Linked DNA regions of Homo sapiens: region 2 is linked to region 1. The links come from fine-mapping of genetic effects on gene expression. A gene starts in region 1. The other region holds a variant in brackets. All regions are shown on one strand. Distances are between the middles of the regions. Region 1 holds the start of TRPM4 (transient receptor potential cation channel subfamily M member 4). Region 2 overlaps TRPM4 (transient receptor potential cation channel subfamily M member 4).

Region 1 (8,319 bases):
TGGCCTCGGTGTCCATGCCTGAGGATATGATGGTGATGCTCACTGGACACAACTTCATCCTCATCCTCGTCTTGATGGCTGTGGCTCCTGTGGCTGGGGAGGTGGTGCCTGTGCTCAGCTGAGTCTTCCGTGTCTTCACTCCCGTGGCCTCTGTGCCCACGGGCCTGCCCACCATGCTCTGCAAAGACCTCCTCACCTGAGACACCCTCATCTCCGACTTTGTGGTCTTGGGACCTGTGGCCTGGGAGTAGGTGCCCATATTCCTTGGAGACATCTTCATCCTCCTTTTCACGGTCTGGGTGGCTCCAGAAATGATGCCCATTCTCTGTGGAAACATCCTTGTTCTCATCTGGATGGTCTCTAGGGCTGTGGAGGTGGTGGCGAAGCTCTGCTGATGCCTCCTCGGAGAGCCCGGCGACTCCAGTGCTGTTGTTCCGGTTTCTGAAGCCTAGCCCATCCCCTCTGAGCTGCTGGGTCATGGCCGGGGGGAGGAGCAGGCTGGCCACCCCAGCCCAGAGGACAGAAGCGTGCAGCCATGGCCTATGGTGGCCCATGGGGACGGACAGGCAGCACTGGCTCCAGCTGCCTCTGCGGCAATGTGGACAAACGTTGGGGTCTTTGTCCCTTTGGGGTTGGTCTCTTTTTTTCTCTGTGTCTCTCCTTTGTCCTTTCGGTCTCTGTCCACCTTCCTCTGGTCCTTGCTGCCTGGCTCTGGACACCCCTCTGAGGCTGTCTCCGGAGCCCCCTGACCCCCCTCTGGGGCCCTCCCTCCCCATTCCCCAGCCAATAGGGTCCTTCCCCTCCCCTCTCTCCAGCTAAATTTACTCTCAGCCCTGAGTTATTCTGGGTCAGTCCCCGCCTGCCTGCCTCCTGCTCCTCCTCCTCCCAGCTGGGGAGGGGACCAGTGAGGGGTCTCTCCCTGGCCAGGAGACGGTGGCCAAGGGACTTGACTTTGAACTACCAACAAGCTCACGTTTGGCAGCTGCAAAGACAAAGGCTAGACTTTTAGCAGGTTTTTGGGGGAGCCTGGGGCACCTGGGGGAGGCAGAAGAGACTTATCAGAGGGGAGAGACTCCTGGGACGGAAGGACTGGGGGTTCGATTGCGGGGTGTTTCCAGCTGGAATGATACGTGCTGGTGAGAGAGTGATGTCAGTATTGAGGCCCTAGAATGGGGGGAAAGGAACATGGCCCCCAACACACGTGCCCATGACCTCCTGTCCCTGGAACTCAGATCTGGGGGCAGGGACTGGGCTAGGCCAGGGCTATAAATACAGCTGGGAGGGGTAGGGGGACTCAGGTTACGGAGGCCACAGCTGTCCCCATCACAGAGGGCTGGCAGGAGACAAGTGGCCTTGCCCGTCTCTGTGTGTCAGTATTTCCTACTCCTCACCCTTCATGACTGCCCCCACTAGGGTCTCCTTTCCTGTTCACGGGTCCTCCTCTCTCTTCAATTCTGTCATCTGCTCTCTCAGGGTCCCTGTCCCTCCTCCATGGGATTGCCTCTCCCTCTCACTCTGGGCTTCTGTCCCACTCTTATCTTAGTGTCAGTCCTCCCCCAAGTCTGTGTCCCTCTCTCTCCCCTAAATCTCTGGCCCCTCCTTTCTGAGTTCCTGCCCTTCCCCCAATTCTTTGGTTTTTGCATCCCCCTCTGCCCCTTGCCTCAGTCAAGGTGTCTCCTCCCCATCTCTGGCATCCACCTCTCTGGGTCTCTGTCCCCACTCTCTCTCAGAGTCTCTGTCCCCCTCTGTCTCAGAGTCTCTGTCCACCTCTCCCTGGGTCTCTGTCCCCCTCTCTCTGGGTCTCTGTCCCCCTCTCCCTGGGTCTCTGTCCCCCTCTCTCTGTGGATCTCTGTCCCCCTCTCTCTGGGTCTCTGTTCCCCTCTCTCTGTGGGTCTCTGTCCCCCTCTCTCTGTGGATCTCTGTCCCCCTCTCTCTGGGTCTCTGTTCCCCTCTCTCTGTGGGTCTCTGTCCCCCTCTCTCTCTGGGTCTCTGTTCCCCTCTCTCTGGGTCTCTGTCCCCCTCTCTCAGGGTCTCTGTCCCCCTCTGTCTCAGAGTCTCTGTCCCCCTCTCTCTGGGTCTCTGTCCCCTCTCCCTGGGTCTCTGTACCCCTCTCCGTGGGTCTCTGTCCCCTCTCCCTGGGTCTCTGTCCCCCCATCCCTGGGTCTCTGTCCCCCCCTCTCTGGGTCTCTGTCCCCCTCTCTCTGGGTCTCTGTCCTCCTCTCTCTCTGGGTCTCTGTTCCCCTCTCTCTGGGTCTCTGTCCCCCTCTCTCTGGGTCTCTGTCCCCGTCTCTCTGGGTCTCTGTCCCCCTCTCTCTGGGTCTCTGTCCTCCTCTCTCTCTGGGTCTCTGTTCCCCTCTCTCTGGGTCTCTGTCCCCCTCTCTCTGGGTCTCTGTCCCCGTCTCTCTGGGTCTCTGTCCCCCTCTCTCTGGGTCTCTGTCCCCCTCTCTCTGGGTCTCTGTCCCCTCTCCCTGGGTCTCTGTCCCCCTCTCCGTGGGTCTCTGTCCCCTCTCCCTGGGTCTCTGTCCCCCCCTCCCTGGGTCTCTGTCCCCCCCTCTCTGGGTCTCTGTCCCCCCCTCTCTGGGTCTCTGTCCTCCTCTCCCTGGGTCTCTGTCCCCCTCTCTCTGTGGGTCTCTGTCCCACTCTCTCTGGGTCTCTGTCCCACTCTCTCTGGGTCTCTGTCCCCTCTCCCTGGGTCTCTGTCCCCCTCTCTCTGTGGGTCTCTGTCCCCCTCTCTCTCTGTCTATCCCTGGGTCCCTGCTGCCCCACCTTCTGATTCTCTGTCCCCTAAGTCTTTGTCTCCCCCTCTTTGGGTTAAATTGTCCCCTCCCTGTCTGGCATCCTCCTTTCTGAGTCTGTTCCCTCTCCGCCACTGGCCCCCAACTCCTTCTGTTCCCATCTCGCGCTTGCCCTTGGAGTCTCCCCTGTGTGTCTCTCTCCCCCCGGCCCGGACCTCTGCACCCCCCAGGTCGCTGTCCCTCTGTCCCCTTATCGCGGCCTGGGACCCGCCCTCTCCCCGCCTCCCGCTTTGGCGTCTCCAAGACTCCCCGCCCCCCAGACCTCGCCCCGCCCCAGGCTAGGCTGGAAAGTGGAGGATCCGGTTTGCTCTGGGCGGGTCTGGAAGCAGAGCCGGCGGAGGGAGCGCCGGGGCCCTGGGCTGCAGGAGGTTGCGGCGGCCGCGGCAGCATGGTGGTGCCGGAGAAGGAGCAGGTGAGCGCCGGACCAGGGTCTGCGGGAGCGCGGAGCTGGGGACCTCGCCTCCAGGCTCCCAGAGAGGAGGGCGCTGGACACCCAGATTCCTGGGTCAGACGGAGGAGGGGGATGGGAGGGTCCAGGTTCCAGGGTCCAGGGCATGGGGGTCGAGACTCCTGAGTCTGGAGCGGGAGGGCGCTGGGGGCCCGGACTCCTGTGTCCGTGGGGAGCGCACGGGGTGGGTGGCTCTGTGTCCCATAGGACAGAACTGGGTGCCCTCTCACCCCACTTCCACCCCTACATTTGTTCCTGTCCCCAGAGCTGGATCCCCAAGATCTTCAAGAAGAAGACCTGCACGACGTTCATAGTTGACTCCACAGATCCGGGGTGAGGAGTTCGCCCCTGGACTGACCCCAGAGGGTCCGCGGCCCGCTGACCCCGCCCGCGGATGGTCACGCCCCAGCCCTGCTCCTTCCCCATTCCTGGACTCGGGGACCTTCCCAAGGGCGTTCCTTGCCGACGCTCTCCCTCTAGGAGCGTTTGGGTCTGTGTAGACACCCCTCATTCCCCATTCGCCATTCTCCCGCTCAGGGTCAGTGTAGACGCTCCAGGGCTCGGTTCTGCTTCTTTCCTCCCCGATGTCTCTTCTATGTGCTTCTGTCTCTTCGTGTCACTTTCTGTGTCTCTGTCTTTCCCTTTTGGGTATTTCTGTTTCATTCATTCATTCATTCATTCATTCATTCATTCATCCATCCATGCAAGAAACCCTCACTCAGCGCTCCCAAGGTCCCTTTAGCCTAATTCAACGGCCCTGCCAGGGTTCCAATTTCCCCTGGGACACGTGCTGTGTGGCTTCGGGCAAATCATTTCACCTCTCTGGGTCCCGTTTCTCATCTGGGCATCAAAAGAGGCTTGATCTCCTGGGGTTATTATGAGAATTAAACAAGTTAATGCTTGTGATATTCCTGGCACAGCGCCCAGCACAGGACGCTGGGAAATATCTGCAGCTCCCACTGGGAGGTGGCAATTATTACCGCGGGCGGGCCCTGTCTTGGTGGCCGGGGACACCAATTGAGCTAGATAGGGTGTGTGCGTCCGCGAGGAGCTCCCGCCCTTCAGTGACGGCCTCTCAAGCGGATCCAGGCTTTCTAGTTTTTTTTTTTTTTTTTTTTTTTTTGAGACGGTGTCTCGCTCTGTCCCCCAGGCTGGAGTGCAGTGGCGCGATCTCGGCTCACTGCAAGCTCCGCCTCCCGGGTTCACGCCGTTTTCCTGCCTCAGCCTCCCGAGTAGCTGGGACTACAGGCGCCCGCCACCACGCCCGGCTAATTTTTTGTATTTTAGTAGAGACGGGGTTTCACCGTGTTGGCCAGGATGATCTCGATCTCCTGACCTTGTGATCCGCCCGCCTCAGCCCCTCAAAGTACTGGGATTACAGGCGTGAGCCATCGCGCTGGGCCAATTTTTTGTATTTTTTTTTTAGTAGAGACGGGGTTGCACCGTGTTAGCCAGATGGTCTCGATCTCCTGACCTCATGATCCGCCGGCCTCGGCCTCCCAAAGCGCTAGGATTACAGGTGTGAGCCACCGCACCTGGCCCAGGCTTTCTAGTTTTTTGTTTTTTGTTTTTTTGAGACAGAGTCTGGCTCTGTCGCCCAGGCTGGAGTGCAGTGTTGCGATATCAGCTCACTGCAACATCCACCTCCTGGGTTCAAGCAGTTCTCATGCCTCAGCCTCCCTAGTAGCTGGGATTACAGGTGCCTACCACCATGCCCAGCTAATTTTTTGTATTTTAGTAGAGACGGGATTTCACCCTGTTGCCCAGGTTGGTCTTGAACTCTTGATCTCAGGCAATGCACCTGCCTTGGCTTTCCAAAGTACTGGGATTACAGGTGTGAGCCACCGCGCCCAGCCCTCTAGTTGTTTTTCAAGACAGTTTTTGGGGTGCGGGAAGTATCCACATTCCTACTTCAGTGTGTATTTTGTTATGACTATATATTAGTGCAGTATGGCTTGTAAATGATGGATAAATAAACAGATATGCGCTTGTTGGACGTGAGTGCTCAAAACCTTTTTACTGATAGGTCAGTGTGGTCAAGACAATTTAGGAAACTCTGGTCTGGCCTGAGGAGGAAGAAACGCAGAAGATAATTATAGTAAGGCAAGGGGTTGCAGCTCCCAAAGACGAGCCACTGGGCTCTGTGAGAGCTGGGAGGAGGTGTTTGCTTAAGACTGGGAGGGGACACAAAATGTCACTAATGGTTTCTGGAGGGAGGAAGAGTGGCTAGTGAGGTGACATTTGAAAGTGAGCTGGAGAGAGGCCCATGGAAAGCGATTTGGGGCCGGGCATTGTGGCTCACGCCTGTCATCCCAACAATCTGGGAGGCCGAGGCGGGTGGATCACCTAAGTCAGGAGTTCGAGACCAGCTTGGCTAACATGGTGCAACCCTATCTCTACTAAAAATACAAAAATTAACTGGGCGTATTGGCGCATGCCTGTAATCCCAGCTACTCAGGAGGCAGGAGAATCACTTAAACCTGGGAGACGGAGGCTACTATGAGCAGAGATCACGTCACTGCACTCCAGCCTGGGTGACAGAGCAAGACTCCATCTCAAAAAAAAAAAAAAAAAGAAAGAAAGAAAGAAAAAAGTGATTTGAACAGCATGTGCAAAGTCCTTGCTAAGGACCATATGGTTTGGCTTGAATATGAATCAAAGTTCAGGGTGCAGGGAGCACTGTCATGAGAGAAGAGGCTGCAGAGGAGGGCAGGGCCAGAGCTTGCAGGGTGTCAGAGGCCACCCTAAGGGGCTGGGATCTTGTCCTTGGGAGCTGGGGCATCACCGCAGCAGTGGGGTTGGCTCTGGGTGTGGAAAAACTTTCTGGGGCTGGGAGAGGATGAACAGGAGCTCGGGAGGAGGCTGTAGAGAGCGTCTGAGCGGGAGGGGTAGTGGCCTGAGCCAGGTCAGGGCTTTCGGGACACAGAGAGGAGGGCATGGGGCAAAGACTCAGGGGGCAGGAAGGCAGAGCTTGGGGCTTGATGAGGGTGATGAGGGAGAGAGGGGGTGCCGCCATCGGTGGATGGCTCCGGGACGTATGCTCTGCTGACTGGGACACAGTGGGGCTGTCCCTGAGATGGAGAGCTCAGGAGGGCAAGCAGGTTTGGGAAATGTCGCTGAGTGCAATGTGGGAATCTGTGCATATGAGCGGCCTAGGGGGACCGAGGGGCATGTGGGGACTGAGATTGGGAAAGGTCTGGACTAATGTCCAGAATCTGAGAGGTCCGAGTTGTAGCTGGTAATTGAAACTGGAAGTAGGTAAGACGTCACAGGGAAAACAACGTGTAAAGTCAGGGGAGTTGCAAACTGGCAATTCTATAGCCAATTGTGTGCGTGTGTTTGTGTGTGTGTGTGTTTAGAAGAGCATTTAAAAATATCTGTCTTCTGTCTCTCTCTCTTTTTTTTTTTTTTTTTTTTTTGAGACAGGGTCTTGCTCTGTTGTCCAGGCTGGAGTGGCACGATCATGGTTCACTGCAGCCTTGACCTGCTGGGCTCAAGCGATCCTCCCACATGAGCCTCCGGAGTAGCTGGGACCACAGGCATGCACCACCATGCCTGGCTAATTTTAAAATTTTTTGTAGAAACCGGGTCTCCCTTTGATACCAGACCAGGCTGGTATCCAACTCCTGGACTCAAGTGAGCCTCCCACCTCACTCTGCCTGCCAAAGTGCTGGAATTACAGGCGAGAGCCACCATACCCGGCTACCTCTTTTTTTTTTTTGAGACGGAGTCTCGCTCTATCACCCAGGCTGGAGTGCAGTAGTGCGATCTCGGCTCACTTCAACCTCTGCCTCCTGGGTTCAAGCGATTCTCCTGCCTCAGCCCCCCGAGTAGCTGGGATTACAGGCACCCACCATCACGCCTGGCTAATTTTTGTACTTTTAGTAGAGACAAGGTTTCACCATGTTGGCCAGGCTGATCTCGAACTCCTGACCTCAAGTGATCTGCCCACCTGGGCCTCCCAACGTGCTGGGATTACAGGTGTGAGCCACTGCTCCTGGCCCTGGCTACTTCTTTCTGTTGAGTTACTTGACTGGCCTCTGCACACATTGGGTTTGAGAATCATGTAGGGAAGGCTTGCACTGGGAACACCTACACTCAAGGGAGGTGAAAAGCAAGAGAAAGCCACAAACAAGTCAGGCATGAAGCAGCCGGGGCGGGGAGGAAGGCCAGAGGGGCAGGGGTATCCTGCCAAGGAGAGGGTTTCCAGAATGAGAGCCTTTCAGCTGTAGCCAGGGCCACTTGTGATACAGTCAGATGAAACCTGAATAAGGGCCGTTGTATATGGAGCCAGGCAGGAAATTGATGATTTTTATCAAGAACAATTTCAGGCCAGGCACAGTGACTCACAGCTGTAATCCCAGCAGTTTGAGAGGCCGAGGTGGGCTGATCACTTGAGGTCAGGAGTTTGAGACCAGCCTGGCCAATGTGGTAAAACCCCATCTCTACTAAAAATACAAAAACTAGCCAGGTACTGTGGCACATGCCTGTAATCCCAGCTACTCAGGATGCTGAGGCACGAGAGTCGCTTGAGCCCAGGTGGCAGAGGTTGCAGTGAGCTGAGATCGTACCACTGCATTCTAGCCTGGGAGACAGAGCGAGACTCCATCTCAAAACAAAACAAAACAAACAAACAAACAAAAAAACAATTTATTTCAGTTTCTGTGGCTCCACCGAGGAAAGAGTGTAGGAGGCAAGCTGTGCAGAAGGAATGGCTCCTAGCACTGAATGTCAGAATTTTCCACGATTTTGGAAACGTTCTATGTCTACATCCAATATGGCAGTCCTGGCCACAGGGGGCTACTGGGCACTTGGAATATGGCCATTGTACCTGAGAAACTGAATTTTTTTTTGAGGTGGAGTCTCGCTCTGTCGCCCAGGCTGGAGTGCAGTGGTGCAATCTTGGCTCACTGCAACCTCCGCCTCCCGGGTTCATGCCATTCTCCTGCCTCAGCCTCCCGAGTAGCTGGGACTACAGGCACCCGCCACCATGCCAAGCTGATTTTTGTATTTTTAGTAGAAACAGGGTTTCACCATGTTGGCCAGGCTGGTCTCAAAGTCCTGACCTCAGGTGAT
Region 2 (8,319 bases), 41 kb after region 1:
CTTTAATTTTTTTTTTTTTTTTTTTAGACAGGGTCTCGCTCTATTGCCCAAGCTGGAGTGCAGTGGCATGTTCATGGCTGACTGCAGCCTGGGCCTCCTGTACTCAAGTGATCCTCCCATTTCAGCCTCCCCAGTAGCTGGGACTACAGGTGCTTGCCCCTACTACTGGCTAAATTTTTATTTTTATTTATTTTATTATTATTATTATTATTATTTTTGAGACAGAGTCTCACTCTGTCGCCTAGGCTGCAGTGCATTGCAACCTCTGCCTCCCAGGTTCAAGCGATTCTCCCGCCTCAGCCTCCCGAGTATGTGGGACTACTGGCATGCGCCACCAGACCCGGCTAATTTTTGTATTTTTAGTAGAGACAGGGTTTCACCATGTTGGCCAGGCTGGTCTCGAACTCCCTACCTCAGGTGATCTGCCCGCCTTAACTCCCAAAGTGCTGCGATTACAGGCGTGAGCCACCGCGCCCGATCCGGGTATATTTTTAAAATATTTTTTGTAGAGATGAGGTTTTGCCATGTTGGCCAGGCTGGTCTCCAACTCCTCGGCTCAAGCGATCAATCCACCTCTTGACCGGAGATTTCAGAGGTCAGAGGTTAGATACAAGAGTCAAAACCCAAGAAATTAGCTCTGGGCAGACTGAGTTTCGGGTCAGGCAGGGTGAGATGTGCCAAGCCAAAAGTCTCGATGATGGTGGAGATCAGGACTCAGAGGTCAGAGTGAGGCCTCCTCCCTTCTCTTCTCTTCCCCCACAGGACGGCGGACCCAGCCGAGAAGACGCCGCTGGGGGTCCCGCGCCAGTCGGGCCGTCCGGGTTGCTGCGGGGGCCGCTGCGGGGGGCGCCGGTGCCTACGCCGCTGGTTCCACTTCTGGGGCGCGCCGGTGACCATCTTCATGGGCAACGTGGTCAGCTACCTGCTGTTCCTGCTGCTTTTCTCGCGGGTGCTGCTCGTGGATTTCCAGCCGGCGCCGCCCGGCTCCCTGGAGCTGCTGCTCTATTTCTGGGCTTTCACGCTGCTGTGCGAGGAACTGCGCCAGGGCCTGAGCGGAGGCGGGGGCAGCCTCGCCAGCGGGGGCCCCGGGCCTGGCCATGCCTCACTGAGCCAGCGCCTGCGCCTCTACCTCGCCGACAGCTGGAACCAGTGCGACCTAGTGGCTCTCACCTGCTTCCTCCTGGGCGTGGGCTGCCGGTGAGTGCCCCGGGGCCTTGGAACCCTGGCCCCTGGCCACCTCTCATCCTTCCTGCCCACTCCCGGGGTCTCCACTCCCGGCTTCCCCGCAGCTGGGCAGCAGGTCAAGCCAACCCTGCTGATTGAGAACCCCTCTTAGGAAAGTCGGGCATGACGATTGCCCCAGGGTAATTGGCTGGCACCTGGAGATCTGGCTTCAGGGACGGCAGGATTCAGGAGAAAACCCCACTGTCCGCCACTCAGCCTCTGCTGCTATTTATTGCTAGGCCTGAAGTTTAACAGATATTTATGGGAGCGCCCCGACCTGGGTGCCAACCTCACCTCCTCCCTTCTCTTCCTCCACATAGCTCGTTGGTCCCAGGCCCCTTGCCCTCCTGCCCCCGACTTTTTCTTTCTTTCCTTTTTTTTTCTTTCTTTCTTTCTCTTTCTTTCTTTTTCTTTCTTTCTTTCTTTCTTTCTTTCTTTCTTTCTTTCTTTCTTTCTTTCTTTCTCTCTCTTTCTTTTCTTTCTTTCTCTTTTCTTTTCCTTTCTTTTCTTTTTCTTTTTCTCTTTTCTTTCTCTCTCTCTCCCTCTGTCCTCTGCCCCTCTGCCTCCCTCCCTCCTTCCTTCCTTCCTTCCTTCCTTCCTTCCTTCCTTCCTTCTATGCTTCCTTCCATCCCTCCAAGCTAAGGGTTTAACCCTTGCCCTGCCTGCATTATGGAGTATCCTGCATTAGGATACTCCTCCTTTTGAGGAGAGCAAACAGAAAAGTTTGTGGATACAACCTGGTGACTGGTTTTTTGTTTGTTTGTTTGTTTTTGTTTTCTTTCTTTTCTTTTTTTTTTTTGAGCCAGAGTTCCGCTGTGTCGCCCAGACTGGAGTGCAGTGGTACGATCTTGGCTCACTGCAACCTCCACCTCCTGGGTTCAAGCGATTCTCTTGCCTCAGCCTCGTGAGTAGCTGGGATTACAGGCATGCACCACTACACCTAGCTAAATTTTTTTTGTATTTTTTTTGTAGAGATGGGGCTTTGCCATATTGACCAGGCTGGTCTTGAACTCTTGGCCTCAAGTGATCCACTGGCCTTAGCCTCTGAAAGTGCTGAGATTACAGATGTGGGTCACCGTGCCTGGCCAACAACCTGGTGACTGTTTACAAGGGACCTGACACATCCTGAATGGTTGACAGTGATGACAGTGATGATCCCTACTCAAGCTTTTCCCAGTAGACACGCTGAGAGGCAGGCTTCCTCTAAGCTATGTTAGCAGTGTTACAAAGTGATTCAACATAAATAATTTATTCAAGCAGGGAGCAAGATATGAGAGTTTTGCAGAACACTAATACTTCTGTTTGTAATTTGTTGTATTTTGTATAAAGTGACTTTTGAGATGAAAGGGCTAAGGCCATATGCTACCATGCTCTAGGATTGCCAGTGATATTTTGGACAGTTTATCAAGCCTACCACTTTCCAGGTGAAAAATGGAAAGATCTCAGCTTAAAAGGGAGAAACGGGCCTGGCGTGGTGGCTCATGCCTGTAATCCCAGCACTTTGGGAGGCCGAGGCGGGTGGATCACCTGAGATCAGGAGTTTGAGACCAGCCTGCCCAACATGGTGAAACCCCATCTCTACTAAAAATACAAAAAATTAGCCGGGCATGGTGGCAGGCGCCTGTAATCCCAGCTACTCGGGAGGCTGAGGCAGGATAATTGCCTGAACCTGGGAGGCGGAGGTTGCAGTGAGCCAAGATCATGCCACTGCACTCTAGCCTGGGTGAAAAGAGCAAAACTCTGTCAAAAAAAAAAAAAAAAAAAAAAGGGAGAAATGTCTAATCATCTCCGGAATTGAATGGATGAATCATCCTTTGTTTCGCCAGTTCCCTCTAGATGGACATTTAGGTTCTCTCTTTCTTTCTTTTTTTGTTTTAAATAGAGACAGGGTCTCACTCTGTTGCCCAGGCTGGTCTCAAACTCCAGGGCTCAAGCAATCCTCCCACCTTGGCCTCTCAAAGTGCTGGGATTACAGGCGTGAGCTACTATGCTCAGCCTTCTGTTTTTTTATTATTCCAAAATAATAAAAGTTTACATCCCAGATGTAAAGTTTATGGGTCAAAGGGTACATTTATTTTTGACATGGATAGATTTCCTTCTAAGTAGCTTCACTCATTTCCACACCTGCCATCAGGGTAAGAGAGTGCCCCCTTGAGGCCATGCTCGACAATGCCTGATACTTTCACTCTAAAATGTAGCTCTCAATTTAACTGAAAAAAAATTTGCCAATTTAATGGGTAAACATGACCTCTCCTTGTTATAATTTATGCACTCTTGACTACCAGATAGGTTGGACATCTTTTCCTAAGCTTAATGGCCATATGTCCTTGTGCCCCCTTGTTTTTTTTTTGGTTTTTGTTTTTGTTTTTGTTTTTGAGACGGAGTCTCGCTCTGTAGCCCAGGCTGGAGTGCAGTGGCGCGATCTCGGCTCACTGCAACCTCCGCCTCCCGGGTTCACGCCATTCTCCTGCCTCAGCCTACTGAGTAGCTGGGACTACAGGTGCCTGCCTCCACGCCCGGCTAATTTTTTGTATTTTGTAGTAGAGACGGGGTTTCACCGTGTTAGCCAAGATGTTCTCGATCTCCTGACCCCGTGATCCGCCCGCCTCGGCCTCCCAAAGTGCTAGGATTACAGGCGTGAGCCACTGCGACCGGCCACCCTCCCGTTTTTTTAATTGGGGTTCATTGATTTGTATATGTATAAATGTATATACTCCTTATACTCTGGATCCTAATCCTCGGTAGTTTTGTTGGTCTTAATATCTTCATATCTTCTCGAAGTCTGTGGCTTGTCTTTTCACTTTCACTTTTGTATGTTTCTTTTCTTTTCTTTTTTTTGAGCCTGCCTCGGCCTCCCAAAGTGCTGGGATTACAGGCGTGAGCCACCGCGTCTGTCCATACACTAGGTTTTTAATCCATCCAAAGTTTAAGTACATGAGGATGCAAAATAGGGGTAGAATTTTTATTTTCCCCATAGGAATTATTGATGTTTACTGGCCGTTTGAACGTCCTCTGTGAATTGTACGTGGTATCCTTTATCTGGCTTCCTTCCTTTTGCGTATTAGTTTGTAAGGACTCTATATGTTTTGCCTTTTATAGGTTGGACAGATATTCCGGCAGTTTTTCCAGCTTGATTCTTACAGGGACCAGCTCTTTGCTAAGGCCATCGTTCATTCAGTCATTACTTAATAGGCGCAGCCATTTTAAAAATGGGTGCCAGGGCCCTGCATGGACCAGCTTGGTACTGAATAAATTTGAGTAAACCCCGGGTGACTGGGAGGGTCCTGGTCCTGCCCGGTGGAGGCTGCAGCTTCCTCTGAAGGATGGCATTGGGAAGACTTCCATTTTCCTTGGCGTCTTGTGACACTTGACCCTTGTGGCATCTCCCCACACCCCAGGCTGACCCCGGGTTTGTACCACCTGGGCCGCACTGTCCTCTGCATCGACTTCATGGTTTTCACGGTGCGGCTGCTTCACATCTTCACGGTCAACAAACAGCTGGGGCCCAAGATCGTCATCGTGAGCAAGATGGTGAGGCAGGGGCGGGGCCAAAGTGGGCGGGGACATAGGGAAAGGGGTGGGGCCAGGGAGGGAGTGGTCCGTGG[A/G]GAAGGGGCGTGACTTTGGGGAGCAATGGGGCGTGTTTTTGGGATATAGGGGTGGGGCCAGAGTAGGAAAGGGCGGGGCCAGACTCAGCCACATCTCCCCACAGATGAAGGACGTGTTCTTCTTCCTCTTCTTCCTCGGCGTGTGGCTGGTAGCCTATGGCGTGGCCACGGAGGGGCTCCTGAGGCCACGGGACAGTGACTTCCCAAGTATCCTGCGCCGCGTCTTCTACCGTCCCTACCTGCAGATCTTCGGGCAGATTCCCCAGGAGGACATGGACGGTAGGGGGGATGACGGCCTGACAGCCTTCCTCTGAGTCTCTGTCCCCGCTCCCTGGGTCTCTGTCCTCCTGGCTCTAAGAAAATATCTGTCTCTCTGAGTCTCTGTCTCCCTCTTTCTCTGGATCTCTGAGTGATACCCTATATTCCCCATCATCATCTCTCTGGGTCTCTGCCTACCCCACCCCCTCTGTCTTTCTGTCTGTCTTTCTTTTTTCTTTTTTTTTTTCTTTTTTTTTGAGATGGATGTTAGAAATGTTTATTTTGTGGTGTCGTAAAGAAATAGTACTTGAACATAAATTTAATTTTTTTAGTAAAGCCATTTTTATTTTTTGTAGAAAGGGTACACTCGCCAGCAGTTTTGTCATGAGAGTACACGGAACAAAGGAGATAGGGTCATTTATAACCTGACGCGTCTATTTTACTGCTGTGTCTGGTTTTTATTGGCTGGAACCGGACTTTACATTTTGTATTTGTCTTGATTGGCTAGTAACTTAGAAGTTTTTAAAAGAAGCGAAGGCAGAGGAGAACAAAGGAAGGAGGAAGTAACTTGTGGAATGTTGAGAAAGGTAAAAACACTTTTAAATAAGGAAGAGGAACAGGCTATGATCTAATGCTTGCTTGAACCAGTATAAGTATGTCAGGGCAAATATTTAGGCTAAATTGTGAGAGCTAAGAACATAAAGTACATTGATTTATTTTTTATGGCTAGTAGATATTTAAGAATGTTAGCACAGGTGTTTGAATAAATTTTGTTTCTAAGAGAAGTTACTATTTATTGTTAATTAGATGGGGAGGAAAGTCTTTGAAGAGGAACCTGTACTTTACTTTTTACATGGAGTTTTGCTCTTGTTGCCCAGGCTGGAGTGCAATGGCACGATCTCAGCTCACTGCAACCTCCACCTCCCAGATCGAAGCGATTCTCCTATCTCAGCCTCCCGAGTAGCTGGGACTACAGGCGCGTGCCACCACGCCTGGCTAACAGTTTTGTGTTTTTAGTAGAGATGGGGTTTCATCACATTGGTCAGGCTAGTCTCAAACTCCCCACCTCAGGTGATCCGGCCATCTCAGCCTCCCAAAAGTGCTGGGATTACAGGCGTGAGCCACCGCGCCCGGCAGTCTTCCTGTCTTTCTTAGGTCTCTGTCCCCCTCACCCCATCTCTGAATGTCTCTCTTCACAGTGGCCCTCATGGAGCACAGCAACTGCTCGTCGGAGCCCGGCTTCTGGGCACACCCTCCTGGGGCCCAGGCGGGCACCTGCGTCTCCCAGTATGCCAACTGGCTGGTGGTGCTGCTCCTCGTCATCTTCCTGCTCGTGGCCAACATCCTGCTGGTCAACTTGCTCATTGCCATGTTCAGGTGAGGCCTGACTGCTCTCTGATCTGACCCCACCCAGCATGACCCGTGGCCCTCTCATGACTCTTGAACCCCGTCTAATGAATTCTGTTTTTAGTCCCTGAACTCTGATCCAATCTAATGCTGCCTTCTCCCCAAACCCAACCAGACCCTGCTTGTAATTTGGACTTTGGACTGATCCTCTCCCTGAGCCCAGGTTGAACTTCCTTATTTGTATTTTTTTGAGACAGGGTCTCACTCTGTCGCCAAGGCTAGAGTGTGGTGATGTGATCGTAGCTTACTGCAGCCTCGACCTCCTGGACTCAAGCAATCCTCCTGCCTTCGCCCCATAAGTAGCTGGGACTACTTAAAATTAGCCAGGCCAGCAGGCCTGCCTAATTTAAAAAAATTTTTGGAGAGAGGGGTCTCACTATGTTGTCCATGCTAGTCTCGAGCTCCTGGACTCAAGTGATCCTCCCTCCTCAGCCTCCCAAAGTGCTGGGATAATCTGTCACCTAGGCTGGAGTGTAGTGGCAAGTTCTCAGCTCACTGCAACCTCCACTTCCCACTCCCCCATACCCAGTTAATTTTTTGTATTTGTAGTAGAGATAGGGTTTCACCATGTTGGCCTTGAACTCTTGACCTCAAGTGATTGGCCCACCTCAGCCTCCCAAAGTGTTGGGATTACAGGTGTGAGCCATCGCGCCCAGCCAACTTTGTTTTTTATTGTGGTAAAATTATATAAAATTTTCCATTTTTACTTCTTTTTTTTTTTTTTTTTTTTTGACGGAGTCTCGCTGTGTCACCCAGGCTAGAGTGCAGTGGCACGATCTCACAATCTCAGCTCACTACAAGCTCCGCCACCCGGGTTCACGCCATTCTCCTACCTCAGCCTCCTGAGTAGCTGGGACTACAGGTGCCCGCCACCACGCCCAGCTAATTTTTTTGTATTTTTAGTAGAGACGGAGTTTCACCGTGTTAACCCGGATGGTCTCAATCTCCTGACCTCGTGATCCACCCGCCTTGGCCTCCCAAAGTGCTAGGATTACAGGCGTGAGCCACCGCGCCCCGCCTTTTTTTGAGATGGAGTCTCGCTCTGTCGCCCAGGCTGGAGTGCAATGGTGCAATCTCAGCTTACTGCAACCTCCACCTCCCAGGTTCAAGCGATTCTCCTGCCTCAGCCTCCCAAGTAGCTAGGACTACAGGCGTGCGCCACCACACCTGGCTAATTTTTTGTATTTTTAGTAGAGATGGGGTTTCACCGTGTTAGCCAGGATGGTTTCGATCTCCTGACCTTGTGATCCGCCCGCCTTGGCCTCCCAGAGTGCTGGGATTACTGACATGAGCCACCGCGGCCGGAGTTGATTTTTACCATTTTTAAGTGTACAAGTCAGTGACATTAATTACATTTACAGTACTCTCCAACCATCACCACTATCTATTTTCAATACGTTCTATCACCCAGAACAGAAAGTGTGTCCCCATGAAACAGCAACTCCCCACTTCCCCTCCCCACAGGTCTTAGTAACCTCCAGTGTATTTTCTGTCTCTATGGATTTAGTCTAGATGTTTCATGTAAGTGGAATTATGCGATATTTGTCTTTTGGTGTCTGGCTGATTTTACTGAGCATGTTTTCAAGGCTCATCCCTGTTGTAGTGTGCATCAGAACTTCATTCATTCCGTTTTATGAATGAGTAATATTCTATTGTACAAATAGACCACATTTGGGCCCAGCGTGGTGGCTCATGCCTGTAATCCCAGCACTTTGGGAGGCCTAGGCGGGTGGATCACCTGAGGTCAGGAGTTCGAGACCAGCCTGGCCAACGTGGCAGGACCCCCTTTTTACTAAAAATACAAAAATTAGCTGGGCTCATGTCT

What was found.
Region 2: its variant is fine-mapped to the expression of TRPM4 in whole blood (TOPMed, PIP above 0.99).

Annotation. Positions count from the first base shown.
Region 1 is chr19:49,154,684-49,163,002 of GRCh38, forward strand. TRPM4 (transient receptor potential cation channel subfamily M member 4) reads left to right here and starts at 3,109. Exons shown (of 25, transcript NM_017636.4): 1 at 3,109-3,207; 2 at 3,509-3,576. The coding sequence starts at 3,184. It overlaps HRC (histidine rich calcium binding protein), which reads right to left and starts at 713. Exons shown (of 6, transcript NM_002152.3): 1 at 1-713. The coding sequence starts at 554. RefSeq lists an enhancer at 2,843-3,464 and a silencer at 4,148-4,334.
Region 2 is chr19:49,195,678-49,203,996 of GRCh38, forward strand. TRPM4 (transient receptor potential cation channel subfamily M member 4) reads left to right here. Exons shown (of 25, transcript NM_017636.4): 17 at 763-1,197; 18 at 4,623-4,755; 19 at 4,934-5,108; 20 at 6,287-6,464. Among named protein-coding and RNA genes, the nearest start is that of TRPM4, 42 kb to the left of the region's middle. RefSeq lists a silencer at 1,082-1,408. The variant A/G (reference allele first, on the strand shown) is at 4,830.